Regions from separate parts of the Homo sapiens genome. Here region 2 is linked to region 1. Evidence: fine-mapped expression QTL. A gene starts in region 1. The other region holds a variant in brackets. All regions are shown on one strand. Distances are from middle to middle.

Region 1 (16,448 bases):
GCAGTATTGAGGCAAAAAAAAATCACAAGCGCTCAAAGTCACTACCAATGACTTATTTCCTACCTTTCCATCTATTGCTAGCTACACAAGTTGCCAATTACTGCCACATCAACTTAAGAGAAAGTGCAAGTATGAAATGAAGCCTATTTGTTATGGTATCAGTATTTAGACGCTACCTAAAATACTCACTATATGTTGGGATATCATGTGCTTTTAAAAAATAGAATCCAACATTGCATATGAAAGCAAAAATGTTTGTGTCTAGATTTCTATAAATATGTCCATGAAAGTCCTTTTGCATAGAGTAAGCATCCTGCCAGGGACATAACTATTTAAGTTCCAATGTACCCAACACTTTATATTCTATTCATGGAAAAACCTGATCCACTGTGTATGTCATTACAGAGGAAGACACTGAGGCTCAGAATGCTCAGAGAATAACTAATGCAAAGATAATAAGTGATAGCACTGGGATTCAAACCCACTCTGAAGCCACAGCCTGTGTCTTTTCCTGGGATCTAATTATGTCACCAAAGTGTGGGGGTTGGGAGGGAAAGGAAGAAATAAGTAAATAAAATATTAACTTGCCATTGAGTTCCTTTGCTAGAATTCACACGAAATTAAATGAATCTACAGTTTCTTTTCCTTCTTCCCAAATAAATATTTTTGAAGTTGGCATCCACAGAGCTTTATTTTATCTGTAGCCATAGCTAACACAGTTTTACACCAAGGATCAGGATAGTAGTTTGTCAGCAAGCAGAGGCAGTGAAGTCAATATTTCTCAAATAAGTTCACTATGTGTCCCTCATATCTGATCTGACTCACCCTTCCTGGCAGATGCATGCCTCTCTTAATGGCCTTTATCTTCTGGCTGCCATAAGCAGATGAGAACAAAGTAAGCTGGGTGAATTCACAAGGTTTTTGGATTGACCTTGATCAAGTGAGCATGGCTGATTTTGCTTATGACACATGGATGCTGTTTTGTTTTGTATTTTAGTTGTTTGTTTGTTTGTTTGTTTTTTGTAGCAACATGGTCTTGCTTTGTTGCCCAGGCTGATCTTGAGCTATTTTTAATTTAAGTAAACATTAGTTACCTTTCGCCTATAACCACAATGCTTCTCCCCACTTCCCCTAAACCCAATATGTCAATAATAAGCTTCTGTGTGCCCAAATAAAAGTGAAAAGTCTGACATTATTAATGGCATTTATTTACCTCTCTCAGAGTGGTAAGATAATATCAGCAGGTACTATAAGGCTATCACAGTTTAGAGTAAATAGACCCTTTGCCCTCTCAATGCATTTGAGGAAAACTAAAGTTAATTCAGAGCATGGACTTGGCTCTACGGAAACAGGATACATAGATGCAAACCTCCCTTCTGGCACACACTCTGTAACCTCGGGCAAATTACACCTGTGTTTCAGTTTCTTCATCTGTGGAATGCAAATAGCAGCATCTAACTCATAGGCTCATAGGCTTGTAGTGAGAGTTGAAGTTTATATCAGAATATGCATGGTACATAATTAAGTGCTATGATGTTAGCCATTGATTTCAATTTAAACACAAAGAATAAATGACATGCTTTGCCTGTAAAATAGGTGCCTAAAACGGCGATACATTGGGCATACTGGTATATAATTTGGATCGGTTTCTATTTCTCAATCAATAAAGTCAAGTTTCTAGCAGAGGAGGGTATTGAGTCAGAGCTAAAGCACTCCAGCTTGTACAAAGGGAAAGGGATACTTTGTTCCTTTTTGAGACGGAATCATCTGGGCAAAGAAAAAGAGAGAACTTCATTCAGAGGGCTACCAGCTGTTCTTCCCAGTTTCTCAATTTTGAAGAGCACAGGCCATAAGAACCCTGGCTAGTGAAGGGTGGTTAAAGAGAATTAGGCCCTTCTGATGACCAATCCAAAAGCTGGGAATCACTGAAGGTCTTTGGTGAGCAATTTGGCACAACTGGTGAATCATTCTGGCTGCTGTAAATGAAACAGATACCAAGACGTTGAAGACAGTGGCAGAGGCTGCAGAAAACATCACAGCAGCCAAAGCCCAAAATAAGTCAGTCCCAGCATTTTGACAGTATATACAGAAAAAGGGAATAGCTGTTATCAGTTCTTTTATTAGGGGGAAAATATCAGTCTTAGAAACAACCTGATGAGAAAGACTTAAAAAGATACAAAAAAGTAAGGTAGGAGGCTTAAGACCAAGGGAAAAATAATGCAACCACTAAGAAAGGTAAAAGATGGGGAAATGAACGATTGTCAGTTTAAAAAAAAAAAATTCATCAATGCTCCTTGGGAAAATGGCTGATTTCAGGGTTTCAGGTCGGGAGCAGCAGACTATGGACAAGATGCACTTAGAATATCTTGCGTCAGAAAAGTAAGAAAGGTATTTGAGTTTACTGGCCATTTAAAAAGTATACAGGAGACAAAGATAAACCAAGCACCAAAAAGGATATTGACTGAAGTGACAGAAACAAATACATTAAGATTCATAAGTTCTTAATGACACTTAAAAAAGAAAAACTCACTGGTTCTCACTGGAGATTGTTAAAGCACCAAATCATTACTCTGATAGTTGGTAAAAGGAAAAAATTAAGACTTTTCCCTGTCTATCCTGCACATTGTGAATTTCAGGAGACCTAAATAATTTATGAGGGAAAGTTCTTTACAGACCGAATTCCAATTAATAAATGCAAGAAGAATGATGGATTTAGATCATCACCATTTTGCAACCCCTAATGAAAAGGATCTAGGCTACAACGATCTGTGATACTAAAATCATTAAGTAGAAGACAGACAGCTAAGTGACACTACCTAAACTCACGAATCAATCTTTCCATCTCAAAAAGAGAGATATCCAGACATTATGCGTCTCACGATGTGATGCAATAGATTTTACACAGCACCATCCATGAAGGTTACTTGTCTTTGAACCTATATCTAATCAAACCTCTATATCTAACTGCCAGATCACAGGAAACAGAATAGAGGAACAAGCTAAACATCACCACAAGGAATCAGTCCAGACAGTAGGATGTTCTACAGCACAAATGAACCACTCTCTTCTGCAAATCACTGGCATGAAAAAAGGGAGGGGAAGCTGTTATAAAATAAATTAGAAATCCTAACAACTAAATACAATATGTGGACCTCATTTAGCTCCTGTTTCCAACAATCATAAGTAAAAAGACAACTTTGAGAAAATTTGAATATGGAAATTATATTTTTAAATTATTAATATTTTAGGTGTGAAAAAGGCAAAGTTTTGCTGTTGTTTTTAATGTCCTTATCAGGACCGTAAACTGAAAAATTTGTGAGTAAGACAACATGATGTACGGAATTTTGTTTTAAAATGCACTAGCCCCTACAAAAGTGTATGGAGGGGGAAAATAAATGAAACAAGACTGGCAAAATGCTAATAACTGTTGAAGCACAGGTGTTCATTATACCATTCTCTCATAATCTCTGTTATACAATTAAAAAAATTAAAGGGTTTTGTCAGGAACTCAGGTTGTGCATTACTTTGCTACTGATTTTTAAGAGGTAGTTAGGGCCCTCCCACAATGTACAACTTAGTCTTTCCCTCATTTGTCTTAAAGAAGTGCAAAGAGTCTTAACCAGTATGCATGCTGAATTCAACACAACTAGAAGTGACTGAACTGAGGAACCAAGGAACTCAGGCATATTAACCAAATGGCAGTTTGATTTTTTCCTAGTAACAGATAGCCTACAACGTAGTGAGACCCCCAGTCTCTAAAAGAAATAGGAAAAAAAAAATTAGCCAAGCATGGTGGTGTGTGCCTGTATCCCAGTTCCTCAGGAGGCTGAGGTGGGAGGACCGCTTGAGCCAGAAGGTCGAGGCTATAGTGAGCTATGATCACACCACTGCACTCCAGCCTAGGTGGCAGAGCAAAACCCTGTCTCAGAAAAAAAACAAAACAAAACAACAACAACAAAAAAAGCCTATAATGCACCTGGGTTGAGCAACACAACCCACAAAGAACTTTGTTAATGTCAGTTGATGTCAGATTGTCCAGGTTTGTGGGAGCCCAGGGCAGCATGGATAAGGACCACACATATTCCTAAATCAGATCTTGGTCAATATAGGAGATGAAAACTCAACTAACTCATGTAATGCACAAAGCTGTGTCTTTACTAGTGGTAATGGATTTCTGTTAACTTATCCCTGAAGTCACGCAGCTCCAGTCTGGAGGTATGGCCCATGAGACACAAAGCTGAAGGTCTACAAAAAGATCCAAGCCATGATTTGTTTGCATTAGCATCACTGCCCAATCCAAGGTGGTTAACCAGACAATCCCAGATGCTAACAAGTCACCAACCAACCAGTCTGATACATATTCTACTTGTATCTCTCTTTCTTTCAAACCCCCTGTGTTTTGGACTGTTAAGTGTATGCCCCCTACAAAATTCTTATGTTGAAGCCCTAACCCCAAACATGACATTATTTGGAGATGAGGCCTTTGATAATTATTTAGGGTTAGACTAGGTCATGATGGTGGGGCCCTCATGATGGGATTAGTGGCCTTATGAGAAGAGGGAGCCCTCTCTTCCTCTGCGTTTACCAAGGGAAGGCCATGAGAGGATATACGAGAAAGTGGTCATCTGCAGGCCAGGAAGAGAGCCCTCACCAGAAACCTAATCAGCCTACACATTGATCTCAGGCTTCCCAGCATCCTGAGCTGTGAGAAAATAAATTCCTGTTGTTTAAACCACCCAGTCTACGGTATTTTGTTATGACAGCCTGAGCTGCCTAAGACAAGTTCATATTTCACTTGTTTTTCTCCTTCTTTCAACCCCCTTCCTACTCCTTTGATGGGGAAGATTCCAAAATCACAAAGGTAGTTCCAAGGCAGAAGAAAGGGGAAATAAACAGTCAAATAAATAGTCAAAAAGTATGGGTTTCCAACACTGGAAAAACTGACAATCAAACTTCCTTCAATAAAAACTGGCTATGCAGTTACGAAATGTGTTTGGAAAGTCCCAAAAAGAAATAATACAGTATTAGAATCAAAGAGGGTTAATAAAGCATACATTATCTGAGGTAACCACATTCAGAGTAATTAAAAAATAAAACTAAATAGGTATATTGACAAGGTATACGACACCCTCCCAGGCAGCAAGAAACATGAGTATGAACGCAAATAAATACTATAGATCTATTTATACAGAAACCCTCAGCAATTCTTGTCGCAGACTGCCTGGCAGCCCTCATGTCTTCAGTATTCTGTGCCATGAAAAAGTAACCGTCAAGGATAATAGAAACATAATTTGACCTACTTTTCCCTGGATTCCTGCAAAGTCTATAACTCCAGTTCTTGTTTATTCCGACACCACATCTTGGGGACACATTTCCTCACTTACTTTGCAGGCAATCCTAAATGCCACACATGTTAAGGTCACTTGTGGGCAATTCCTAAACTCTCTGGGTCACCGACTTTAAGAATGTCCCATCACACACAGAGAATCCTCAGAACATCTTCTGAGATGGACCTGGGATGGACCATTTTCCACCTGAGATGGAAAATGCCTAGGAAAAGAGAGATGCAGCCTCGAGAAGCTGAAGACCGACATCAGTTCAGACCCTTCCCTACCCAAAGGAGGGCGCATGAAAACAAGTGGTTATCCCTCACTCTCAAGTTTACACAAACCCATCTCTGAAAGAGCTAGAAGTCTCCCAGCAAGGTCTTGTTTTAAGTCAGACAAGACTGCATTTTAAAAATTACAGCCAAACGGGAAAGAAAAACCACATTGATGCAGCTTCTCATTAAAGACCACTTAATAATAAATTTTTAAAAGATGAGTAGAACCCACCAAAGGTGCCGCCAAACCCTGGTGAGCAGGGAAATCTGAGTAAGTCAGCTCTGTGTCCTGAGGCCCTGGCGGGGCCTCCTAGGTGGCTTCTTAAAGATCCCAGGAGACAATCAGCAGACCTTCCTGCTTCTCTTAAAAATACAAAACATGCCTGACCTGCTCAGGTCATTAGATGCACTTAGAACTCAATGAGGGACACTCCTTCACCAGGAAATCGTATCTGAACACACCATCAGGAAGTCAATATTGAAGGTTCTTGGGGGCGTGCACCCTCCTGCTCAAGAGGGTGTCCAGGAGTATTAAGTGCTGGAGACACCGGAACCCAGGAACTGGAAGCTCACCCAAGAGCTTCCGACTCCTGGGTCTGCCCCTCGGCGGTGGAGACCACCAAAACCAGTCTCGATGCCCAGAGCTTGCAACAGCACCTCCAAAACAAGCACACACGTCGCATGCGTCCTGCAAACAGGGATGCCGCTCGTGGGGCCTGAAGCTTGCGGTTGGGACAGGGCTGGCTGGCTGTTGGACGCTGGACACCTGCAGCTTCCCCTCCGAGAAGAGGCAAACAGCTCGTCTTCAGCCGATGCCCGGTCCCGCAGCCTGAATCTGGGGGCCCTGGGGTTAAGTCAGGTGCAGCCTGGTGGGGGGGAGGTGTGGGGGCGGGGGAAGCCGTCGCTCAGGGGGTGGCACCTCAAAACCCGCCGTCCCGGGCCCCTCTTCAGCCGAGTCCGGCAGAAGGGCGTCCCTTCCGCCACCTCCCCAACTTCCAGACGCCCCCCTCAGCGGCCCGGGGGGTGGGCGCGGGCTCCACGTGCGCGCCGCCCGTGCCCACTCGGACAGGGCCGGGCCACTCACCCGGCCCCCAGCGGCGCTCCGCTTCCTCCGCAGCGTGAGCCCGCTCCGCAGCAGCGCGGGCAGGTCCCTCAGCCGCGGCCGCAGCGACGCCGGCGGCTGCTCGCGCTCGGGCTCCCGGGCGCTGGGGCTGCGGCGCAGGGGGCCGTCTGCCGCCACCACCGCCGCCGCGGCGGCCAGGGCCGGGCTCTCGCACGGCGGCTGCATCTTGACGGAGCCCACGGCCATCCTCATGCCCTGACGGCGCTGCGGCGCCGGGGGCTCCTCTCCACCGCGCTCGCCTCCGCGCGCCGTCCGCGCCTTCGCCAGGAAGCGAGAGGGCGCGACTGCGGCTCGGGCGCGGGGCGCGCTGCCAGCCGCTGCCCATTGGCGCGCGCCGCGGCCCCCGCGAGGCTCAGCCCCGCGCGCCTCCCCTCCCCTCCTCTCTCCTCCCCTCCCCGCCCAGGTGCGCGGGCCCCGCCCCGCCCCGCCCTTTCGCCTGCGAAAGCTGCCTGGGACCTGTCCCCCTCGGATCTCCCACTCGGGACCCGGGAGGAAGAGGGCACCTTGGGCACCGGCTCATCCACAGGTGCAGAATTCCCAGAATCTCCGGCAAACCCGCTCTTCTGTCCTGTCCCTGTCCCCCTACCCCTTAGGCTGAAAAGTCCTGCTTCACTTCTTCGAATAGCCAGGGGTTGACTTGGACTTCAACCAAGTGTGCTGGAGAGTCGTCCGCCCTCCCGCGCGTTTTGCACAGCCTGGCCCCTCATCGTAATCTTTACTCCTGGGAACTGTTTTGGCCAAGGAACTTCAAAATAGACACGCTACAAGGCAAACACCATGAGGCAAAATTGCTTTGCGCCGACCCTTCTTGGCACACGCATCCTTAAAGGACGAAGGGAGAAAACTTTTGTTGGTTATGATAGGTGTTGAGCAGAGTAGCTGCAAGTCTGGTGACCTGAAGGTGAATCTCTGTTAGCATGTCAGAACCTGACCTTCCCTGAAAGCCCGCTGCTGTGATGAATGTGCTTGGTGAACTGTAAAGGCCTGCCGTGGTGTGAATCATTGTTTACACCCTTCCAGGAGGCAGGAATTCTGGATCATTGAGAGTGAAACTATTCCAGCAGTGCCTTAAACGCCAGGGAGTGTGAATGTTCACATCTCAGCTCAATCTGTCTTCAACAAGGGCCAGCCAGGGTGTTGACTTCTCATCAGTGGGGCGCTGGGATCCCCATCTTTGTCTAAGACTTACAAAAGTTGAATAAGCTTATTCACATTTTTAAAAAATGACAAGAATCGTAGGAGGTCAGGGTCCAGAGTTGGTTTACCATTGTGCCCTCAGCCACTCACATGGTAGGTGCTTGGCAAATATGTATAAAAACATGCCATGTAACAAAAAAGGAGGAACGAACTGTGACCTCTGCCCTTAAGGAAGGTAAGACTTAACCTAGGAGTAGACAAACATCCAGAAAAACAAAGATATTGCACTTGTACTCTTGCTAATTGCCAAGTAAGTGTAGGTAAGACCACTTCAGGCCACAGGAGAGAGAAATGCTTCTGGCCTGGGATGGGCAAAGCTAAATCCACGAAAGGAAGGAAGTTTAAACTGCACCTTAAGGGTGAGTGGGGAAGATTCAACCAGGCAGAAGGAGGGTAGGTGTCCTTCAAGTAAGGAAGAAAGACATGAGGCCGGGCGCGGTGGCTCACGCCTGTAATCCCAGCACGTTGGGAGGCTGAGGCGGGCGGATCACGAGGTCAGGAAATCGAGACCATCCTGGCTAACAAGGTGAAACCCCGTCTCTACTAAAAATACAAAAATTAGCCGGTCGTGGTGGTGGGCGCCTGTAGTTCCAGCTACTCGGGAGGCTGAGGCAGGAGAATGGCGTGAACCCGGCAGGCGGAGCTTGCAGTGAGCCAAGATTGCGCCACTGCGCGACAGAGTGAGACTCCGTCTCAAAAAAGAAAAAAAAAAAGAGAGAAAGACATGAGAAAAACACAAAGGTGGTATCACACAGAACTCACTGGGCACTGAAAATATGTCATGCTAGTGAAGGGAAAGATGACATAATGAAGAAGTAAGAGAAGATACCAGAATGGATGCTAGTAACACACTGCAGAAGGCCTTAAACCCTGTCACCTTAAGCTGTGTGTGTTAACTGGAAAGGACTTTATAATAGGACTCCATAGTCCATTACAGTTTCCAAATACCTATCACATGCATTTATCCAAGGCTGAAATTGCATTTGTATGTTACCATGTCAGACTCTATCCGTTTTTACAGTGTTAAGATATTGCAGCTCCAGTTGGTAATTGGTCGTTGTCTTGAGCCCCAGAGTGCCACTCACCCCCATACCTCCAACTTCCCCATGACATACAACTAAAGGGTGAACACCTGGCCCACTAGAAGCCCTCCAGGACACTCAGATTAGTGGGTGCTTGCGCCCCATCACCCCAATGACAACATTGAATCATACCATGAACTTACTCTACTCCAAAGTAGAACACGTGTTCCGTCTCCTGGTCCAGGTTCCTGGTCTTCAAACCCATTCACACAGTTGCTCAATGCAAGGCCAGCATTCCTTAGATTCTATGGGATAGACCAAGCGTCTAAAGTTCAAGAAGGGCCTTTGGAAAATTGGTTTAGGTTAAGGTGATAAATGACAAATGCCATTTAGCTTCAGGATAAAAATAGGCAAACAACAGGGAATAGTAGGATGTGTACACAGAAGAGCCACGTCACTGTTTAACTCAAATCAAGCAACCTTTATACTCGCTGTGCCCTGTCTGGAATGAGAGTCCTCTGCAATGCTGTCCAACAGAACTTTCTACAATGATGCACATTTTCTGTTATCTGTTTTGCAGCTACTAGCCACATGTGACTGCTGAGCACTTGAAACATGGCTAGGGTGACTGAGGAACTGAATTTTTAACTTTGTTTAATTTTAATTCATATAAATTTAGATAGCAGCATATGGCTAGTGGCTACCATGTTGGATAGTGCAGTTCTAGAAATCCACATTTCTCTCAGTCAGTGTCTTCAGTTTTTAAATTCAAATGTCACCATTTCAGTGAGGCCTTCCATGACCATGTGATTTTAAATTGCAGTCTTTCCTATCCATTCCTTTCTTCATCCCCTTCCGAATGCCCCACAGAGCTTACCACCATCCATATTCTATATATTTTATTTATTTTGCCTATTGTCTGCCTCCCCACAACTAAAATGTATATGACATAAGGACAGGGCTTCTTTTCTCTTTTGTTCAGTATCTAGAACACATGAGTTGAATAATTCAATTATTTCATATATAAGAACTAAGTTTTTCAAACAGTTTAATCTGGATTTCTATACAAAATCTGATTTTGCAGTATGAAAGCTTATAAAAATGTAAATCATATAAAAATGGATTAGAATGAATAAGATCTACTGTTGGTAGCACAATAGGGTGACTATAGTTAAAAATAATTTACCGTATATTTTTAAATAACTAAAGGAGTGGAATTGGAATGTTCCTAACACAAAGAAATGATAAATGCTTCAGGTGATGGATAGCCCAATTACCCTGATTTGCTCATTACATATTCTATGCCTGTATCAAAACATCACATGTACCCCATAAATATGTACAGCTATGATTTACCCATAATAATAATAAATTTTTTTTGAGATGGAGTCTCGCTCTGTCACCAGGCTAAAGTGCAGTGGCACGATCTTGGCTTACTGCAACCCTCTGCCTCCTGGGTTCAAGCGATTCTCGTGCCTCAGCCTCCCGAGTAGCTGGGATTACAGGCACGCACCACCACACCCAGCTAATTTTTGTATTTTTAGTAGAGATGGGGTTTCACCATATTGGCCAGGATGGTCTCGATCTCCTGACCTCATGATCCGCCCGCTTTGGCCTCCCAAAGTGCTGGGATTACAGGCGTGAGCCACTGCGCCTGACCAAAAAAATTTCTTTTAATGTAAATCATATTTGTGCCAACCACACAAGTCAACGAGACCACTTGCCAGCCACTTGCAATTTTTCCTACAGGATGGGGTACCAGAGCTGAATTTTACTTAAGAGAATGAGATCATCAAAGTCAAAGTGTGTGTAAAGACCCATGGTAAGAAAACACAAATTTTAAGGCTATTGGCAGGATAGCGAAATTGAAGACCAGGAAGATAGCTCTGACAATGAGCTAGCTACAAAGTGATGAGGGCCTGAATTCATTGCGGCAATGGAAACAGAAATGAGGGGTTAGATGTTAGACAGTACAAAAGAAGGCTCCTTGGGCATAGGAGCAGTAGAAAAATACTTCAGATGGTGTTGTGGAGTGTATTGTCCAAAGATGGACAGTTCAGCATCTCCTATCTTCCAAGCTCTTCTGCAGTGTGATATTGCCACTCCCCCGAAAAGAGATGGAGTTTCTTTCTCCATCTCTTTGAATTTGAGCAGACTTTGTGATACAGGAGTTAAGAAGAAATCACTTAGGCAAATAGTAAGGGTATGGGAGTCCTTGGAAAGACTTTCCTTTATAATGAAAAGCAGTACCAAATCATTTTCTAACAAAGAGCAGCCTGTAAAGTGGAGCTGCAGATATAGACAAGCAAGCTGGGAGCTTGCACAGGTCAATGTCAGCAGGAACTAGGGTCTAAACATATTCAAGATGGCGGCTCCAACTTCCCTTTTCTCCCAGCCATGTGTACAGTGAGGACCAGAAAAGATGGTGCAGGCCAAAGGGAGAATTCATTTGCATAATAAGATTAGCATGGGGCGACCAGTCTTCCCCACTTGCTATGTAAACGTCACACCTGATCGAACCAGTCTGTGAGCCCTAGGTAAATCAGACACTGCCTCCTCAAACCGAACTATAAAATCCGGCACATCCACCACCAGCCAGTCTTTTCTGCTGGGAAGACCCCCCTTCTCTCTATAGAGAGAGCTGTTTTTCTTTCTCTTCTCTCCTGCCTATTAAACCTCCACTCCTAAACCCCTCATGTGTGTTCGTGTCCTAAATTTTCCTGGCACAGGAGGATGAACCCTGGGTATATACCCCAGACCATGTAGCCGTTTCACTTGTGAATGATCTGGCCAATAGAATAAACAGAGGTGACTTCACCTGTTCTGTAAATAGCCCTTGGTTGGCCTGGCAGCTTCCACTTCCTGCTGTCTTGGATTGCTTGGTCTTGGGATGTGCCTACTCAGAACCCAGCCTCCTTGCAGGGAGAAGCCCAAGCCACATGGAAGCCCTGTGGAGGTGATCTGGCAGCTGAGCTCCCAGTAAACAACCAACATGAATTGCTGCCAATTTGGGAGCTACTTTGGACACAGTCCAGCTGAGCCTTCAGATGACTCCTGTACTAGTGATGTCTGACTGCAATCGTATGTAAGGAGCTCAAGAAAAAACTACCTAGCTAAGCCCCATCAACCCACCAAACTGTGAGAGATGATAAAGTGTTTGAAGCCACTAAGTCTAGAGGTATTTGTTACATAACAATAGATGACCAGGACACATGGCTCAAAAAATGTGAAGAACATACTCCGTTGTGAATGAAAAGGATGGAAATTTATATCCATTTTTGTACATGCATGAAGAAACTCTGGAAACTTTTTCAAGTCGTTGGAATTGGGCACGTGGGGAAAGGAAAGGTGGGAGATTTTGCATGTACCACTTTTTATATTTTTTTGTTTTTTAGAACATGTGAATATATTACCTATCTTTAAAAATAAAAATTTTAAAAATGGCTCCAGATTTAGAGAAGTCAAAGAGGTAGGGGAAGCCGGTTTTGAGGGTTTAGTTTTATATAGCAGTTATACCAACTAAAGGGTGATCAGATGAAATTCCCACCAGCAAGAGGAGGAGGTGAGCTAGAAATGAAAAGAAAGGACTGGAGAGAGACAAGCAAGCTGGGAGCTTGCACGAGTGAATGCCAGCAGGAACTAGGGTCTAGACATGTTCAAGATGGCAGCTCCATCTTCCCTTCTCTGCTAGCCATGTGTTCAAAATCACAATGGTAAACAGTGGAGCTAGACCAGGGTGCTCAGGGGATAGAGGAGTAGCAGGGACACTCTGTCCCTTGCTAAGCTTGAAGAACATGCTGCAGGTGACTTTCCATCCCCAGTTGTATGGAATTTGGGGCACTGACTCTTATGGCTTCTCTCATTTAATTTTTGTGTTCCTATACAATTACTAAGAATGCTGAGGAAATCATCTGTGAGCTGGTCTTTCCCTTGTGTCATTCCATGCCCTGCCTACCTGTCTTCTTTTAAATGTATAGAATGCACATCAGCCTAATGAAGTCTCCCAACACCACAGCTGTTAGGACTTTGATAAGTCCTCTTTGGAATCCATCTCTTCCCAACATCTCCCATTTTTAAATTTACCCCCATTCAAGATGTTTTGCACTGGTTTAACAGCTCTCAAAAACAGAAAACTTGCATATAATTTTGTCTCTCTATTCAACCCTGCCAACCCTCCAGAATGTAATCACCAAAATGGATTAAATATGAGCACAACCTTCCCAAGGGCTAAGCTGGTTTTTGAGGGTTTAGTTTTATATATATATATATATATATATATATATATATATATATATATATATATATATATACACACACACACACACACATACACACACACACACACACACACATGTGTATATATATAAAAATATGTATATATGTATATATATAAATATGTATATATGTATATATATAAATATGTATATATAAATATGTATATATATGTGTATATGTGTGTGTGTGTATATATATATATGTGTATATATATATATATATAGCAGTTATACCAACTAAACTAAAGGGTGCCCAGATGAAACTTCAACCAGCAAGAAGAGGAGGTGAGCTAGAACTGAAGAGAAAGGACTGGAGAGAGAGAGATGCCAGTGTTCAAAATCATGATGGTAAACAGTGGAGCTAGACCAGGGTGCTCAGGGAATAGAGGAGTAGCAGGGACACTCTGTCTTTGCTAAGCTTGAAGAACATGCTGCAGGTGACTTTCCATCTCCATTTGTATGGAATTTCAGGCAGTGACTCTTATGGCTTCTCTCATTTAATTTTTGTGGCTTCTCTCATTTAATTTTAAGAGAACAAAAAGCAGATCCTTGCAGGAGAAACCCAAGTCTTCCCGTGCTGCCTCTGCTGAGAATGCCAGACAGAACGGTTTGAGTACTTGATACTAACTCTATTTTTATGTTATCTTATGGAATGAATATGCAATTGAGAGAAATGTAGCAAAATAAGGAAACATGTTTCCAACCTAAAAATGTTAAGCCTTATTCATTTTATTTCCGTTTTCAAGAATCATAAATGTAACTATCTGCTATCAGACTGTTCATGACAAACCTGTGTGACACTGTGCTATTATTTTTGTAGTACATCACGCACTATGCATCATGCAAATATCCCCCTTGGGGATGATAAACCTTCTTTATATTATTTGCATTGGTGGCTCCAGCCAGAGACAGTGGCTGATAGGCATGGGTGCCAGATGGGGGCTCCTCCCTATAAGTTCATCTTCTATTCATTCACTAATAATCTTGAAAAAAAGTCTGTCTGTTCATGCCATTTCATATGCTGTTTACTACCACCATCCTGGAAATTTCTTTTTTAAAGTCAGTTGTGCAAATTCACCAGGCCCTTTAGTACTTAGGACATTTTTGAAAAAAAAAAAAAAAAATCTATGTGGTTGAATGCCCAAGAAGACAGAGGAAAAGGGTGATAAGAGAACTAACTTAACCAACAGACAGCAAGAAAGCCAAGACAATGGTGTCCCTTCTTTGCTTGTGGAAATCTACTCATCTTTACACAGGTCAAACAGTAGCTCCTCCTAGAAGCCCTCTCTGTTCTTTCCATTTGGGATTAATCCTTCCTTGGTAAACCTCAGCATTTACCTAAAATTATGATTCCACATTTACCACCCGTGTTATCATAGTCTATCTCTGCATTTGAATTAAGTCAGATTGGCCCATCTCAGCTATGCAAGATTATAAACCCTTTGAGGGCAGAAATTATTCTTTTTTATATTCTCCTCTCGCATCTAATACAGTGGCTACCATGTACTAGATTATAAGCAAATAAATGCACGCATGAATGAATGCTGGATGGATGAACAAATGAATGAACAAAATCATGATTAGCTAAACACTGCAATCCTAAGTTAAGGAAAGCAAGACAGAGGTCTCAGCAGATGCAGAGTCTCTGAGGTTGTAGGAAAGTACATTATCCCATGGGTGATGGGAGGCTATAAATGGACACCAGATGGTGGCATGTTCAGATCAGCAGGGAAGGAAGATGATTTTAGCATCAATATGTAAAGTGCTTTAGAATAGGGAGACACTGAAAGCTGGGCAGCCGGCAAAGCAGGTTACAGGATCCCAGGCGTGAAGTATTAAAATGGTAATCCATAAGATCAAGTTCATGGAAGCTTCTTCTGTGCTTTCTTTTGCTATTTGTATCAGTGCATTCTGTGTACAGAATTTCTGTGCTAATCAAATGAAGTGGTGTTTGTAACGCTGTTTGCACACTTTAAAGCTCTGCACAGATAGCACTGCCTTTCTTATAGGATTGAAAGAGAAGGGGCAAATGAAATGATGCCCTGGATAAATCAGGGCCTGGACCAGGAAAATAGGAGAGAAGACAGTGGAAAAGGAAACAAGGATTCAAAGTCATGCCCACACAGAAATTAGAAGCCTTTAAGAATATGCTTCTCCTCTGTCTGTGAATGTTAAGCATTTGTAGCATTGATCCAAGCTAAATACAGAATGAGCTGTGAGCAAACCTGTCTTAGAGGGTACTGGCAACATTATATGAGCTCAGATTGGCTTTTGAAGATCTCGATCAGAAGATATAAATCTGGGCCGAAGTACACTGAAAGCAGCAGAAGGTGTCCCAAGTTCTTAAACATAAAGAAGCCTTTAGCTTAGAGAAAATGACAGCACTCAAGGAATGACAAGGGAGTTGTTTTCAAATATTTTGAACGTGTTGAAAAAGAATTGGACTCATTCTATGCAGAGTTAAGACCAAAGTGGGAAACTACAGAGAGAAAAGTTTCTTCTCAACATAATAAGTGTTTTTCTATCCATTTAAAGTCCTTTTTAAACCTGGAGTGGCCCCTGTCCTTGCAAAATGGGGAGCTTAGGCAGGATTTGGTGGGATTTTGTTTCATCAGATGGAGGATTGGACTAAATGACCTGTAATGTCCTTTCTAATCAAAGATTCAGTTATTTCACTGGCCCTAGTACATAATGAAGTGGCTATAGGGCAGGGATTCTCAGACAGTGATCTGAGGATTCTGGACTTGCTCAAAGCCCTTTCAGGGGTTTCCCAAGGGTCCTAATAACACTAAAATGTTACTTTCCCCCTTTTCTCTCATTCTCTCGTAAGTATACATGGGTGTTTTCCAGAGGCTAAAGACGCTGGATGTGGCAAAAGACAGAACGTAGGACCAGATACAAGAATTTAGCTGCTTCTCTTAAGCTAGACATTTAAAGAAATTAGTGAAAGTGTAAAACAATGCCAGCCCTCTCACTAAATTTTGTTTTGATTTGGAAAACAGTTATTTTTCATAAAACATATTTATAACAGCATATAATCAGTTCATTTACTATATAAATATTTTGAAGAAATTTCTCAGTTTTAAACTTTAATATGATAAGCATTCATAGATACAGCTATAACCCACATAGATAAAAGGTCTTTGGGGTTCTATATAATTTAAGAGTGTAGAGGGGTCTTGAAACCAAAAAATTTGAGAACTGCTATTATAGGGCATGGTTAAAAAAAT
Region 2 (16,448 bases), 240 kb before region 1:
GCACTCCAGCCTGAGCCACAGAGTGAGACTCTGACTCAAAAAAAAAAAAAAAAAAAGTAGGGGGGGTCTTTGTTCATAGTTGTTTTTCCATCACCTAGAATAGTACCTGGCATACAGTAGATGATCAGTACATAGGATAGAAGATGGAGCTGATGAGGGCCACTGTAGACTAATGTGAATGAGCTAATATTACCAGGTAGAGAGAGGTGGGTGAGGGGGTCAGCTATTGGTTGATTTAAGGAAGAAAAACACCATGCAAGTATAACATGGGGCCCAGGGTGAACCATCCCTTTTTTGGCCTCTCCTGCTTTTACAATGGGGACTTCATCTCAACCCAGGCCTCAGAGTGCAGGCTCTGCCCTTTAGCTTGCAGACTGCGTTCTAAATGAAAGCAGAGATTTCCTCCAAGCACAGAGCACACCACAGAGCACAGTGAACAGCCTGCTGTTTTCAGGCCCTTGTCAGAAATGATGACGCTTGCATGTGGCAAACCAGCAGCTCAAGGTTTGGAAGGGGAGCTGCTGTTCAGGGATTCCTGGCCTGGAGTCCCTGCAGAGGGCCAGCAGGGAAAGGAATGGGGTGGCATCTAGCAAGAGCGCTTTGCCCAGTCCTCAGAGAAGTTGTGGCCCAAGGTCTAGTCAGCATTTTTGCCTCCAAACACAGGAATAATAATAGCATGAATACTAACAGGAGTATTATCCCAACTTGGCAAGCTATAGGAAGATACCTTCATTCAGATAAATCAGCCAATACTTAGGGAGCCATTGCTTTGTCCTGGCATTGTGCAAGGCATGAGGGGATTCCAAAAGGAAATCTCTCATATTCTTATTTCACTTTAGCATGAACAAAGAACTCGCACATGCATTGTCCATTTCATTCTCACAACTGCCCTGTGATAGAAATGTTCTATTATCTTGTTTGACAAGAAGGGGAATGAGGATAAGAGAAGTCAAATGACTTACCCACAGCCATGTATATTCAATGATTGAGGAAAAATGTGGGTACACATCTTCTGGCATGCATCCTGTATTAATAATAATAACAGGCCGGGCGTGGTGGCTTATGCCTGTAATCCCAGCACTTTAGGAGGCTGAGACTGGAGGATCGCTTGAGCACAGGAGTTTGAGACCATCCAGAGCAACATAGCGAGATCTCTTCTCTTAAAAAAAAATTATATACACACACACACACACACACACACACACACACACACATACATACATATAAGCCCAGTGTGGTGGTGCTCACCTGTAGTCCTAGCTACTCAGGAGGCTGAAGCTAGAAGATCCCTTGAGTCCATGAGTTCAAGGCTGCAGTGAGCTAAGATCATGCTGCTGAACTCCACTGTGGGTGACAGAGTGAGACCTTGCTTTTAAACACACACACACACACACATACACATACACACACATAAAGTATCACTAATTGGATGTGAACTATGTACCAGGCACTGTATTTCGCACTTTATATGCACTTTCTCATTTTACTTTTCACACAACCTTGTGAGGTAGGGAGCATTTTATGAGATGCAGAAACAGCAGTGAAGAGCAAGGTAGAAACTTTCGCCAGTTTTCCCAGCTCTTGATAATGGAAGGTGGTTCCTGAAAGAGTAGCAGGTGCAATCGGCTGCAGGAATTCAGATAAGAGATGGGGGCAGGGGCTCGATGTCAGATGGGACATCCAGGAGGGCTTCAGAGTGCACCAATCCTTATTTGGTAGGTAGAGAAGGAGTTCTGGGCACACTGTGTCGAGTGGGCAGAGAAGGGACAGGCCAGACCTGAGTGCTGGGGCCCGGCAGGGAGGCTGGGAGATGAGACAGGATGGGGCTGCACAGCTGGAGGCCAGGAGTACAGTGAGGAGCCAGGCGGACCAAGTCCCTACCCTTAAGGAGGCAGTAGCCAGCTTGGCACTTGGCAGCATGCCGTGATGCATTGATTCCAGGGGCTTTTCTGTTTGTTTATTGCAGGCATTCATCCCTGGTAGGACTGTGGAGTCAGCAGTGGGCACAGGACAGGGAAGGGGTGAGGTGTTCCTTTCCGGCATCCTCCCACGGCCTTTTCCCTTCCAGCTTCTGAGGCCTAGCCCAGGTCAACTGAATACAAAGAAGCATGAACAGTTCTTATTTCCTACATTAGTCAAGTCACTTAAAAAAAAACACCAAAAAACTAATTAGTTCTGGCAACTGCAGGTCTACACCAGCTTTCCTAACCACCGTGAGCTGAAAGGGTCTTAAAAGTCTCCTGAGACGGCTGTCATCTGATTTCTGGATTGCCCTTGCAACCATCTCTGCTGGTTGATTTCGGGTCTGTTTGCACATCTCTGATGGGGAAGAGCTCATTGTCCTGAAGGCAATTCTGGTGGCCTGGGCTGCTCTAGTTAGGGCCAAGACACACACACACACACACACACACACACACACACAGTTACACAGAGGTATATACGTATCCTTCTCAGTCTGGCCTCCAGATTTCCCACCTTGAAAGGGACTTGAGAGTTGAGACACCACAGCCCTGTTGTTGCTGTAGAACTTGGGAAGGGCAGGGCACGGTGGCTCATGCCTGTAATCCCAGCACTTTGGGAGGCTGAGGCGGGAGGATTGCTTGAGCCCAGGAGTTTGTGACCAGCCTGGGCAACATGGCAAGACCCCATCTCTACAAAAAATACAAAAATTAGCCACGCATGGTGGTACACACCTGTAGTCCCAGCTACTTAGGGGGGCTGAGGTGGGAAGATCACCTGAGCCCGGGGAGGTTGAGGCTGCAGTGAGGCATGAGCTGTGATCATGTCACTGCACTCCAGCCTAAGTGACAGAGTGAGACCCTATCTCAAAAAAAAAAAAAAAAAAAAAGAACTTGAAGAACTTGGGCAGCAGCTCTTGCCGCTGTCTCAAGGCTTCCAGGTGGGCTAATTGCTTTAATTGCTTTTGAGACTTCAATGTCTTTGCCCTCTGTTGATGTCGTGTTGTTTTTTGGTCGGGACCCCAAGAACAAGGTGACCAGTAGAGGGATTTTCTCAGGAAGTGATTTTCACTCAAGTTGGGAACTTTCACACAACTTGGGAACTTCCAGATGTCTGTGAGTAAGAGGGGCCTTCCAGAGACAAGGGTACACTATTACTTCCCATGGTGGCATTTCGGGCAAGCCAGCCTCTGAGGCTGGGACTGCTGTTCAGGGTCTTCCAGGGAGAGGAAAAGTCCAACCAGGAGAACTTGGCGTTTCTACCCACCCATTTCCAGGTTGGAAACCTGGGAATATAGGAACCACCCAGAGATAATGGCGTGAATCCCCAACAGGGGAGCTTGTTCTTTTAGAGGAAGATTTCCAGACCTGTTGAGATCTTCTTCACGGTGTGGCTGTAGCAGAAAATAATGGTGACATGATATGGCTAGACAGGGGGGGCTTGGTTTACCCTGGTTCACAAGTGTCACGTGAGGAGAATTTGGAAGTTCCTTAACTCCAGGCTGGAGGGAGAGCAGTGGACTCAGAAGGTGGCTACAGAGTTTACTATGGGACTGCCGTGGTGAGCAGTGACATGACCTTGTGGCAGAAATGCCCATAAAGCTAACCATAGGGTACTGTCTCAATTCCCAACACTTGGAAGACCCCCATCCCCAGGATAAGGATGGATGATTAGAAGCCACAGTGGGGCCAAACACAGGCCGAGTTTCTCCTGGGCAGGAGAAACAAAATAAAGAAATGCGACTGGACCCAGCTCTGAGTCTGGCTGGATCAGGGATCTGAGTGCATTCCCCAGGAGCCCTGCACTAGCTCAGTCCTCAGGATGCCACTTTCTGCCTAGAAAGTCAGCCCTGCTGCTTAGGTGCTGGGAAGGGGAACTGCTATGGCTCTGTTTAGGCAAGAGAAATTCCTGCTGCCTTCAGTAACAGGAGTACTTCAGTAAAGAACATCAGCAAGTCTAATGCTTTAGGAATCTCATTTGTTGAAAGTAGTGAATGAAGAGCAAAGGCTCATGGGGTATTCAGAAGACCTCAGACAAAAAACCTCAGACGCAACCTCATGCCTTGAGTAGGATTCTGTTGCTAGTGCACCAGGGCCAGGACCAGAAGTTTCATTTTGAGTTTTGAGTTTTGCTAACAGGAACAGGCTTCTGAGTTCACGGGAGCCCTGTGCATCTTCCCAGTACCGGCTATCCCACTCGAAATTGAAGAAAATCTCATCACGTCCTTAGCAATGGGTATTTCTCTTTCTTTCCTATTCCCTTCCCAAGCTGGAACCTAGGGCTTCTTCCCATTCTCCCTTCATCTCCTGCATTCTCCAGGTTCCAGGAGGACCCCATGGGGTCAGCCCCTACAGATGAAGTGATTTAGGGATCAGGACTTCTCTCTTCCAGTGGCTGCCTTAGAGACAATGCCCTTGTGTTTTCTCTTCCCATTTCCCCTTGTTTCACAGAAGTGCCACTTCCTGGTGATGAAAAACCCAAGAAAATTATCTTCAGGTCTTCTTTCCCATTTCTCATAAAAAGCCAAGCCCTTTGCATGGATGTGCGACAACAGGTGGCTTCATCCACGAGGTACTGTGCTGAGCCAATACTGCCGCCCACAAGTGGACGGAGGGAAAGGGCAATTTGTCAAGAAAAGACTGTCCTGAGAGACTGTATTAGTCAGCTGAGGCTACATTCTGCTGAGTAAGAAACCACTACCAGACCTCAGAGACTTCTAGTGATGATGTCTGATTTCTCACTCAAGTTAGACGTCGTTCACAAGCCAGGACTCTGCTCCATGTTTCCTGTGATCCAGGACCCAGGCTGACAGGGGTGCCTTCATCTGGAGCAGGGCAGGTCTCACAGCACAGCAGGCATGGCAGGTGCAGGCTACCTCATAAAGCTTCCACAGACATGTCTCCCCATTTTTCACTGGACAGAGCAAGACACTGGGCCACTCCTGGGTTCAAGAAGGTGAGGTTTATAATCCCCCTGCAAGGGGGAGATGGACACATGCCAAAGGCCAAACTTGACCTCGATGGGCAAGATGTACAAATTTCCTGTTTACACAGAGAGAAGATGCTGAACACTCAGTCTGCGCTAGTGTATATACCGCCTGGCATCCCACTGCCCCAGAGCATCCTTATTATCCCTGTGCTGCTCCATCCACTCATGGCTCTTCCGCTGTCAGGACCTCTATCCTGGGCCCCGGGCATCACCACTGGGCTGGTAGCTGCACTCAGTATCTGGGCTGGTGAGGGACAGTTCCTGGTCCTGCTCAAGTAGGGTGAGGCAATGACAATGGTTGCCAGATTCCCCAGATTTCAGACTCTGAGAACACTGATGCAATTTCCAAAATAGGGTGTTTAGGTTCTGCAATAACCCAATGGCAGGATAAGTGATTTAGGCTTCTATGGGCTGCCTGAGAACCTCTTCATCTACTTGTAGCTCTTTCAGTGAGCAAATGACTTCTGAGTTCCAACCCCCTGAGCATCATATGCTGCCAGAACAGAGCTATTTAATCCACACACATCACAGAGAAAGCAAGAAACTAAGAGGCATGAATAGTGTCTTTAACATAGTCTCATATTTGGAAAAGCAGTTTTAAAAAAAAATTGAAAATACAAGATAAGGTAAGGGTTACTTATATAAGTTTTAACCTTATATTGCTTGGCCATTTTTACATATAAATTATTGCTTACTAGCTTCGATAAATACACAGCACAGTCATATACATATATATTATATATATACACAGAGGCAGAAAGCATGGAATATGGGAAAGAAAACACTGTTAATGGCAATTCTGGTAACTCAACAAATGTTTCATATTTACCAGTTCTTTAAATGGTGGAAAACTACCAAGTGTAGTCCCTGAGAAGTTAGGTAGACACCCTGATGGCGGGTTCTCTATCTTCTAATTGTTAATGCAAGCTGACAATATCACAGCAGCCCTAATTAATGATACATTAAAAGGCAAGATTTCTTGCTTCAGGTCACTGATTTCATCCCAGTATTTAATAACAGTGTGATACGAATACAATAAATAGACTATGCAAATAAATATTACTCTGCTAAAAAATGTTTAGTATATACAGCTTTGCTTTATACAGTAATACATTTGCATCTAACTTTTTGGCAATTTTTAAAAACTTCCCCCCCGCCCCCCCACCAGTTTTAAGCAAAACTGGCCCACTCGCTAAGAAGCAGGCTGAAATTTTAAGGACATGTTTTTGAAACATTTAAAAGAAATCCTGTGTTGGACCACTGCGGAAGACCCGATCGTCCCCATTTTAATGTTTTTGCCCAGTTTCTGAAAAGCCTGGATTGGCTGCGCCATTTAGGAACATTCAGTTCCGGATCTGCGGTGTCTGTGCTGGCTAGAACAGACTCGCAGGGCTGGGATATGGGTAGCAGTGAAAGCCCAGCTCCAGGGATAAGAAGTCATCACTGGTACTCTCTCTTTCATGCCACGATTTCTCCTCCACTCAGAGGCAAGTATATATTCATGCAGCATCCTCTCCCTGTGGACTAGGCAGTGTGAGCACTGACCTTATCCACATGCTTCTAAATTCGGTGTATGCTCCACACTACCTGTTTGTGGTTCTCGGTCTAGGGAAATGAATTTATTCTAAACATAATTAAGGAAACTAGAAAAAAGTGAATGCAGGTCATGTGTATCACTATAATCATTTGGCAATTATACAGATGACAAAGAGCAAATTCAAAACACCACACTCTAGGGAACACCTGCAAATGTGTATGTAAAACAAAATTTTTTTTAATAGCAAGGTTGTGATTTTGCCTACGGGGTCCTGCATTCTGCTGTCTTGTGCTAACTTCTAAGCAGGGCTAGTTTGCTGGAATGCTGACGAATCCAAAGACCCACAGGACTGTCTGAGAGTTGTGCTGTAACAAAAAGAGCCCACTTAGAAGTGCCCCTGCACCACCTGGTGCCGAAGGTGCCAGATTACGTAAGATTTGCAGAGTGAGCGAAGATTTTATGCAATAATAAAACTCCAAATGAGAGCTGGCAAAGAGCTTAGCCATCTTCTAGACCACGCTTCTAGCCAGAACAAACCCTATTCTGAAGAGGCCTTGGTGAATATCCAGAGAGGGTGCATGGCCCATCCTATTAACAAGGAGCACTCAAGCCCCACCACTGTCCACCAGTGAACAGCTCAGATTCCTTAGAAAGAGCTTTCTGTTGAGTAATATCTGGTTCTCACAATTCGGGCTTGAATTCTTTAATTCCAGATCTAAGATTCTGCAAAGCTTTGGAAACTTCTGAGAGCTGCTGCCTGGCAAACCTCTGGAGACAGTTGTTAAACTTCAGAAAGATGCAGAGATTTTAGACATTCAGAAGACAAGGATGGAAAAGCAAATCTTGACTGCACAAAATCCTCCCTTCCCTCTGCTACCCCTAGGACCACCTAACCACGGCTGGAGGAAGAGGTGAACAAGCATCATTTTCTCCCCAGCCAGTTTACACCCATGTCATGTGAGATACTCTGAAGTCACTGTACAAAATGCATTTAAATACCACATTTGTGTAGCTTCATCTGGCTTGGTGGGCATATCTGACTTGGGGTCTGAGCAGCATGCAATATGCTGAAATAGTTCTCCATGGAAAATTAGTCCCCTAAAGGTAATGTTCTACTAGGAGCAATGTAGTTCTAATGTAAATAAAAATCCAAATTTTGAAACACAGAAACAATGTCAGGATGGCCTTATATGATTACACTGGCCAAACCTTAGTCCAGGGCATAGGAAAAAGGTGAGAACACGTGCTTGTGCTGTAAGCCCATGCTATTGTTAGTAACTGCGTGAGGAGGGCTTTGGAGGGTTTGCTCAGCCCAGCCGTGAGGGAAGTCTGCTCTCCGGTTCTCACGGCTCTGGTGTCCTGTGGGCCACATTCCATGACGGCAGCATGCAGCATTTCTCTGAATGGACCAGCCCTGGAGGATGCCCTTCTATAAAACCCTATAAATGTTCAGGACTGAAGTTTTACATGCTGGGCCAAACTAAGTCTCTCTCAAAGTTCTCCCAAACCTTCTCTCCACATGGTTCCTTCCAGCAGTATCTCAAGCTCAGTGTGGTTCCTGAGCCCAGGAAACAGCACTGCTATAAAGATGTCAAAAAGCATTGGACACGCCTCAGTAATGAGGATGAATGAGGCGTTGATGAGACAAAAAGGAAACAGGTCTGTGTGGGCATGAAAGAGATGAACAGGCAGGAAGAGTGAGAAGTGCACCAAGACTCCTGCATTTGGAAAATGAATGGACCAGGCCCTTGCATTTTAGCAAGGTGACAAGTATCTAGCAGGCAGGGGTGGATTTCATTATTTTGACCCATAGGCTGTTTTGTTCATGTGAAGGTTGAAAGAAATCCTCTAACCAGTCCTTGAAAATATCAAGAGGTCTTATTTGCTACAGGAGCCTCAATTGGTAAAAATGGGAATAATAAGATTTTAGAAGACTCAGATTTTGAAAAAAAAAAAAAAAAAGGCAAATTATAGAAAGGCTCCCTGCTTTGGCTGGTAGTTGGA[T/C]TATAGGACTTCTAAGTTGCCAACATTAATCAGACATTTGGCTATTTCAGGGCATTTTTCATTTGCCAAAACACTAGTAATTACCACTATCTTATTACCTAGAGAGTGCTAAGTGCTTCACTCATTAAATGTCACTTAACCTCCCTGCACTGGCTGCTGTCATTCCATAGTGTGGGCAAGGAGCCTGTATGAGGTACGCAAAATGCATCATCAGGCACAAGAATGCAGACTTTTGTGACTCTGTCACCTCAGCAAGCAGTTGGTGAGTGTTTGCAATGTGTCAGGCACTGTGCTTTTTCAAAATCATATTATGTCCAATAAAAGATAAGAGCCTGCTTAGAAGTATAAAGAAAATCCCCAGAAATTAAACAATGAGTCAATTTCTTAAAGATTACTATTTTTCCTTACTGGCAAAGCAACTTCATCTACCTTGCCTATAGCTGCAAATCAGTTGTACAGAAACTAATTTCACCTGCAAGCATGTGTCAATAGTTGATTGTGGTGCAAAGTGATGCACACCTTGACATTGTTCATCTGCCCATCAGAGCATGGATGCTAGCTGCAGTCCTCACTAACTCCCTAGACACAAGTGGCTTTTGGTGATGTCACAGGTTGTATCAACAGAAACCTCTCCTCCCTGGAGATCTAGAGATGCTGTCTCTGTCATCAGGTGTTCAAAAGAATGACTTCTTTGACAGCTTATGGACAGTAATCTAAAACTAGGCAAAGTAAAAACTCCTTCCTGTTTCATGCACGCTCTTAATGAAATATTTGGTCATTGCATGTCAAGACGTTGTCTTGTCTTGATGCTGGCACATCTCATATTGAAAACTGGACTGGATCAACAATGTGATCATAAGAAACCAGCCTTCTCCATCTCAAGAATGCTTCTGACTCTCCTTCTGCCTTCTTGTCCCGAGAGTAGCATGGAGAAACCTCTCCCCCTCTCTGGTGGCTGACATCACTTCCTGAACACGCTTTGGCTGGCTTTCCTGTGAATGTCTTGGGTTATACTGATAAAACTCAGCAACTTCTTTTCTCACAGGAAAGCAACGTGCTTGGCATAGACATTCCCGTAGCTCAAAGTGCTGCAGATACAGGGGAGGTGAGGCAGTGGGGCTCACACCCGAGGCTCGATCCTGTGTGAGAGCTCAAACAGAGCCTGCTGGCTGTCAATGACATACAGGTGATTAACATAGGACTTTAACTCTTGATGCTCTTTTGGAGACAGGTCACCTGTTGTTTAGAGGGGGAAAAAAGACAATCTCAGGAGAGCAGTAATGCTGTATCTACATACCAACAAAACCCCACACTAAGGCTGAGTAAATGTACTAGGTGGGTTCTCATTAGTCAGAATCCCATAAGAGGTGTCCTTGTCCTACAGTAGAAATGCTTTTTCAGCTCAGAATGGATTCCTCAGGTCAGGCAATCAGACTGGCAGGATACTTATAGCATTTATTACCTAACATTGTATATTATTTAGAAATTACGTTATTATCTCATTCCACAGATGGGGAAACTGAGCACAGTCACGCAGCAAGTTAACTGTCACAGCCAGGATTCGGACCCAGGACAGATGGTTCCTGAGCCCTTTTAGGTAGCCTTTCACAGCAGTTACCTGTTTAAATGGCCAGCACTGGGTCCTATATCTCAGTCTAGAAGCGTTGAAAATCGCTGATAATGTATTTAGCATATGAATGCAATCACTCTTTTTCTGTTGTTTAGATTTTGTACAATTCTTTGGTATTCTCATTTTTTGGAAAAAAAAATTTAATGGAGCAACTGAATGAACAGATACAACAGAACAGACTCTAAGATGTGGTTAACAGACGAAATAGCTTCAGAAAGTATGTGTATGGACTAAAGTCTACCCAGAGAAGGACAAGACAAGGGGCTTTTCCACTCACATATCTAGGGCAGTCAAGGAATCGAGGGGCCAAAGGAGGCTTTAGTGCACTGTGAACACATCCACACCCTGCTAGCGTCCGTGCTGATAAGGAACCAGGATGAAGCAGCATGAACCACGAGGCAAGCCCGTGCACCACAGTCAAACACACACACACACAAGCAAACCATTTGAGGCTGGGGAACACTGGCCAAACTGCACTACAGTAAAACAATGGAAAGGTGAGTGGTGAAGACATCATATCCTGTTGCTTTGTAGATTATGCATGGGACAGGCAGGGTGAGCTGCTGGAGCTCAGTTTGAGCAGAGGGAAGGGAAATGCAGGAGGCTGAGCATTTTCTTATAGCATTTTTTTCTCTTGGTGAAACCCCCTTTTTTCTCCTCTATAACAAATGTATTTTATGAGGAAATAATTTAAGACCTGTATGACATGGGTGGCTTATAATTCTTAGGTTTAATAGAAACAAGGCTTCCTGGTTTTAGCAAGTAAACACACTAGGTGTTAAAGTTTATACCATCCCACCTGTTTGAAAGTAACAAAAAGCTGTTTTATTCCAGAATGCCTTCTCTGGAAGACGTCGAGAAAGTTAAACATTGGTTTGGATAACACGATGCTACAAAGGTAATTTTATGTTAATTTTCAAGCCTTAAAAAGATGGCACAATGAATGGTTCTAACCATGGCAACTGACATTTGCATGACACTTTATAATGCATAAGTGACTTGATTAACATTTTCATATTTTATCCCAAATGCTGACATTGGTTTACTATGCTCATATAAACCGTTAAAATGAATTCGGATAATTCAGTTCCCAAACCAATTTTTTAAAGATACTGTATATAAATATTAGAACATCAACTGGCTTGATAGTTACTTAAATTTCTCCTTTGCTCAGTGCCACACAGAGGGTTGCTCTCTGATGAGTGGGAGGTTCAAGGCAGGTTCAAGGCCACACAAGTTAGTATAACTATCACCTTCCTGTCTATACTTGGAGCATATATAAACTAGAGTTCCTTGGTTAAGTGAGACTGATATCTTAGAATTAGCTGAATCCCCAGTAAACACTTGGGAAGCAAAGGAGGATAAAAGCAATATGAAGCTGTACTCATCAGCATTATGCTTATACATTTCAGTGAATCTCTGTGATGATGTTATGATTACTATTTTTATTGTAACTGCATTGCGCTTGTATGCTTGATGAAGAATTATATAGGTATATTAAAGTGGTACTAATTGATGTGAATATTTAGAAAATTAGGTCCTGTATTTATAAGTCTCCTTTTCAAAGAGAAAACATAATCCACACAGAAGTCCAGTTCCTAACTTACTTTGTTGGGGGACAATATTGCCAGCCTAGACCAGCACTGAACAGAAAAAAATTCTTAAGCAGGTGTACTCAATTGTTAGCAGTACTTTTCTTGAGAAGTAGGACTCTGATTTTCTACTTTATATAGACTTCTATATTGTTGAAAAAATTGTTTTACAATGGGCATGTCTTACTTAAAAAATGAAGTTGAACTGAGTGGTTGCCTTTGATTAATTTATAATTATTGAACTCAATTTTCTATTTTTTATTACCCTTTGTATCCACAGGATCTGTAGAGGGCAAAAGAGAGGGCGAGGAGGTAAGGTAGACTCAGTCTGAATAATAGCTAAATAAGTGAATCTCTCTGAGTCTCTGCTTTTTGTTCTACACCTACAGGGTTAATAATCCCCATTTGCTAGGACTGATGTCAGGATTCCATTGCCCATGTGAAAGCTCCTTCAACTCAATGAAGTTGATTTCCTTCCTTCCTGCAATGTTCTAACACCATTTAAACATAGTATAAATTATGGCTGAGATTTAAAAAGGAACAAATATTCCTACATACATTAGTCTCAGTGGGGATTCTACAAAAGTGCTCAGAACCACACTTTTGCAGCTGAAAGGCAGCTCCAGACAGGAAGTTTTTGTTGGAGAGGAGAAAAGATTCTGGAAGGCTGCTTTAGGCACTTTTACAAGCTATAGTCCTATTCCAGGAAGGCTCCACGCAAAGAGGTTAGGGGCAAGGTCACCCCTGCTAAACTCACCAGTGATTTTGAGCCAATGGACAAGCAAAGCAAGACACTGTGGGGACAGGAGTCAGCGGGAGTTGCGGGGAGGAGGTTTCTGAGTGTGTAAAGTCACTCTTCACAGCATAAACTTGCTGCCATGAGGGGATAATAATCTGCCATATCTTGTCTTCCTCTGCATCCCCAACATGCAGTGAGGAAACAAAGAGACAATCTACTATATATATACAATATGCGTATGTATATACATATGATACTTTTCAATCTGTTTAAATTGATTACCACCCAATACTTGTGACCACAGTTGGTACCAACGTAGAGTCAATTTACATTCCGCACCTGACTTCAATTACTCACCAAACTGGTTAGTCCTGCAGTGTCTCAGGGTTCGGACAGTGTCTGCGATCATATGCTGTAAAGTAGAACAGGAAACACATCAATGGAAGGGTCGTTGAGGGTGTTACTGAAGAAGCAGTGCCTGCTAGGATGGAAGGATAATCTAGCACTCTTGGCTGTAATAAAGAGAAGAACTGTATTTGGAGCTGGATGTAGCTTTGATTCTATGGAGCTTGGATTATCAAAGAATATTTAGTCCTTATCTGCAAAAACAGTAGCACCAGAATGGGTGAGGTGGCTCTCACCTGTAATCCCAGCACTTTGGGAGGCTGAGGTGGGCGGATCACTTGAGGTCAGGAGTTTGAGACCAGCCTGGCCAATATGGCGAAACCCCATCTCTACTAAAAATACAAAAAAATTAGCTGGGGGTTGTAGCAGGTGCTTGTAATCCCAGCTACTCGGGAGGCTGAGACAGGAGAATCGCTTGAACCTGGGAGGCGGAGGTGCAGTGAGCCAAGATCCCATCACTACACTCCAGCCTGGGTGACAGAGTGAGACTCCGTCTCAAAAACAAACAAACAAAAAACAGTAGCACCCAATCCGGGTTGCACAGGTTCTTATGAGCCATGAGAAAATACATTGTAGAGAAGTGCAGCACCCCCAGCCCCAGTCATCCTGTTCACATTTGCACATGTGTTTCACTTCAGGGTATGTGTCACCTCCTCTCCATGAAGCCTTTCTGAGATGTCCCTCCTGGACTCAGAGGCTCCAATCTCAACATCCCCACTGCTCTTCGTACAGCACCTATTGGCTTTGTGTCACTGTCATTGCTGTTGAACTTTTCTCCTTCTTTAGACCAAGTACCACCAGAGGGCTTTGGATGTGCAGAGCCTACTATGTCAGACACATTGACTTACACATATGTGCTGAATGGAGGTAGGAATTCTTGTAGATTCAAAGGTTCAAGTATCTTAAATTGTAACTGGAAATGAGATACTGACAAAAGATGAACATTTTCTAAAACATTAACATCATTTTTTTTGTTTTTTGAGACGGAGTCTTGCTCTGTCACCCAGGCTGGAGTGCAGTGGTGTGATCTTGGCTCACTGCAACCTCTGCCTCACCAGTTCAAGCAATTCTCCTGCCTCAGCCTCCTGAGTAGCTGGGATTACTGGCATATGCATCATACCTGGCTAATTTTGGCTAATTTTTGTATTTTTAGTAGAGATGGGGTTTCACCATGTTGGCTAGGCTGGTCTCGAACTCCTGACCTCAGATAATCCAACCAAATTGGCCTCCCAGAATGCTGAGATTATAGGTGTGAGCCACTGTGGCCGGCCAACATCAACATCTTTAGAGACCATTTTCTGTTCATAGTTTATATTCACGTACAGTCTTCAATATTCTAATTTAATTTCTTTCCTTGAAGTCCTCACTGATTCCCAGGCAAAAGTCTTCTTTTTTTTTTTTTTTTGAGATGGAGTCTTACTCTGTCACCCAGGCTGAAGTGCAATGGCGTGATCTCGGCTCACTGCACCCTCTACTCCCCAGGTTCAAGTGATTCTCCTGCCTCAGCCTCCTGAGTAGCTGGGATTACAGAGGCATGCCACCACACCCAGCTAATTTTTATATTTTTAGTAAAGACAGGGTTTCACCATGTTCAAGTCAGGCTGGTCTTGAACTCCTGACCTCAGGATCCACCCACCTTGGCCTCCCAAAGGGCTGGGATTACAGGCATCAGCCACCCCACCTGGCCGGCAAAAGTCTTCTTAAATGTACAGCTGCTTTGGACAAGATCCCATCATCTTATACTTTTGTACTTGCAAGAGTGAGCTGTCTCTACCACTTTTAGTTTTTCATGTTGAAGGAAGTAGCATTTTGGAAGCATATACGTATATGCCATAAGAGGAACTAGAGTGCAGTATGTTCTCTTCCAAAATGCTATGCTAGCTGGCTTAATTGCCAGAATAATCTCTAAATACTATTGTCTTCATGTTCTAGTTCTCTTGAGAATCAACAGTAGCTCTCTACTTTGTTTCATATCACAATACAAACATCATCCTATTATTCAAGAATTAATATCATTCATATCTGGGCCTCCAATTTGGGTCAACATCTTTCATGTCCCAACTATACACACTGAGCATAGGATCACCATATACAGCAAACCCTCAATGAATTATTGCTGAAAGAATATTAAACACTAAAATATGTTCTTACTTAAAATTCAGAAGAAATACAGAAATATTATTGGAATATGACCTACTGATTGAATTGTTGTCATAACCGTATTTCTAATGCACTTCTATTCGATAGTGGAAAATTGAATAGGACAGTGATTATTGCAGTAGCTCAAGCTGCATTTGTAAAGGAAATGAGACCTGACTCATGTCTGTGCATGTATTGTTCAGTTTCCTTCCCCAGATTTTACCACTTTTCCCAGGTCAGTTTTCTCATTTTAAGCTCTGGCGTCACATTGATTTCTATCATATGCCATTTGCGTAGCTTGTGCAAGGCTCAAACTGATGTAAGGCTGGGTAGTGGGTGTGGCATTGAAACCTGAGTTCTGGTCTTCATCTTTAGGCTTTCTAAAGGGGGAGGGGGTAGACAGGGTAAAAGATGATGCTCTTAACATCGAGGGATAAAGAGAAGAAAAGAAACCATTTGTTTCTTTTTATGAAACAGTTTGAGATGAAAACATTTCCAGTAGCTGAGGCAGCAAGGAATGTAGCATAAAGAACAGAAATCTCATTAGACCTGATGAGGGCTTCTGGATTTTCATGGGGTCTGACTCAGTGTACTGGCCTGCATCAGTCAGATAAAGATAATACACTGAATTATCTGTTAGCTGGCTTAAGTTAATATCCATCATGAGGAATTGACTTTTCACAAGTTAATTCACTTAGGTTCTATTGGTTCATTATCGTGAAAGATGATCCTGTTTTACCTTTAGAGAAACCCAGTCCTTTACTAAGAAATATTCCTTGAAAATAGTGTTTCTCCTAGAAAGGTCAGTCTCATTCTCCAGCATCCAAGTGTAACACAATGCTATATATGACATAAAACTGCTTTTTGTCCTGGACACAGTTTTATCCTGTCTACTCTGTGTAAGGAGGGGTCAGCATGAGGCATGCTGTGGACCAGGAGCTCACTAGTCCCAGGTGTGGAGCCTGCCCTCTGAGGAAATGAAGAGCCCGTGCCTGCCTGACGGGCTTGCGTGTGCGCTATGTGAGTGCTGTGTGCATGCTGAACTGCACCCATTTCTTCATTCTTTTATAAAATATAATTTCTCTTTAGGAATTTAAAATATTATTTATGCCATGCTATTCCCTTAAACTTTCTCAAAGAATTAAGGGTATGATGATTGACCCTAATAGAAGTCATATCATTTAGACCTCCTTCATTTCCAGCCCTATGGTTAGTTGGCAGTCTTGGCATATTTGAGAGCTGGCGTTAAGAGGCTTCTGCTGGATTACTGGAGAGAGCAGGGGAGGGCCACAGATGCTGGTCAGAAGGAAGGTGGGAACAAGCTTTCCACAGCTTGTTCCCATTTGTGACTTTATGGACTTGTTCAGGTTTTTTTTTTATTATCTTGTCACTTTGGTGGCACTATCTGAGGGGGAAATGACATAATGAACTTAACAAATTCACTGGTTCACTTTA

The links.
Region 2: its variant is fine-mapped to the expression of RAPGEF5 in lung (TOPMed, PIP above 0.99).

Annotation. Positions count from the first base shown.
Region 1 is chr7:22,350,144-22,366,591 of GRCh38, forward strand. It overlaps RAPGEF5 (Rap guanine nucleotide exchange factor 5), which reads right to left and starts at 7,011. Exons shown (of 26, transcript NM_012294.5): 1 at 6,687-7,011. The coding sequence starts at 6,917. RefSeq lists silencers at 709-838, 6,477-6,706, 6,767-7,156 and enhancers at 1,629-1,738, 2,029-2,078, 6,287-6,356.
Region 2 is chr7:22,112,798-22,129,245 of GRCh38, forward strand. It overlaps RAPGEF5 (Rap guanine nucleotide exchange factor 5), which reads right to left. Exons shown (of 26, transcript NM_012294.5): 25 at 12,807-12,861; 26 at 5,439-9,724. The coding sequence ends at 9,609. Among named protein-coding and RNA genes, the nearest start is that of CDCA7L, 180 kb to the left of the region's middle. The variant T/C (reference allele first, on the strand shown) is at 8,489.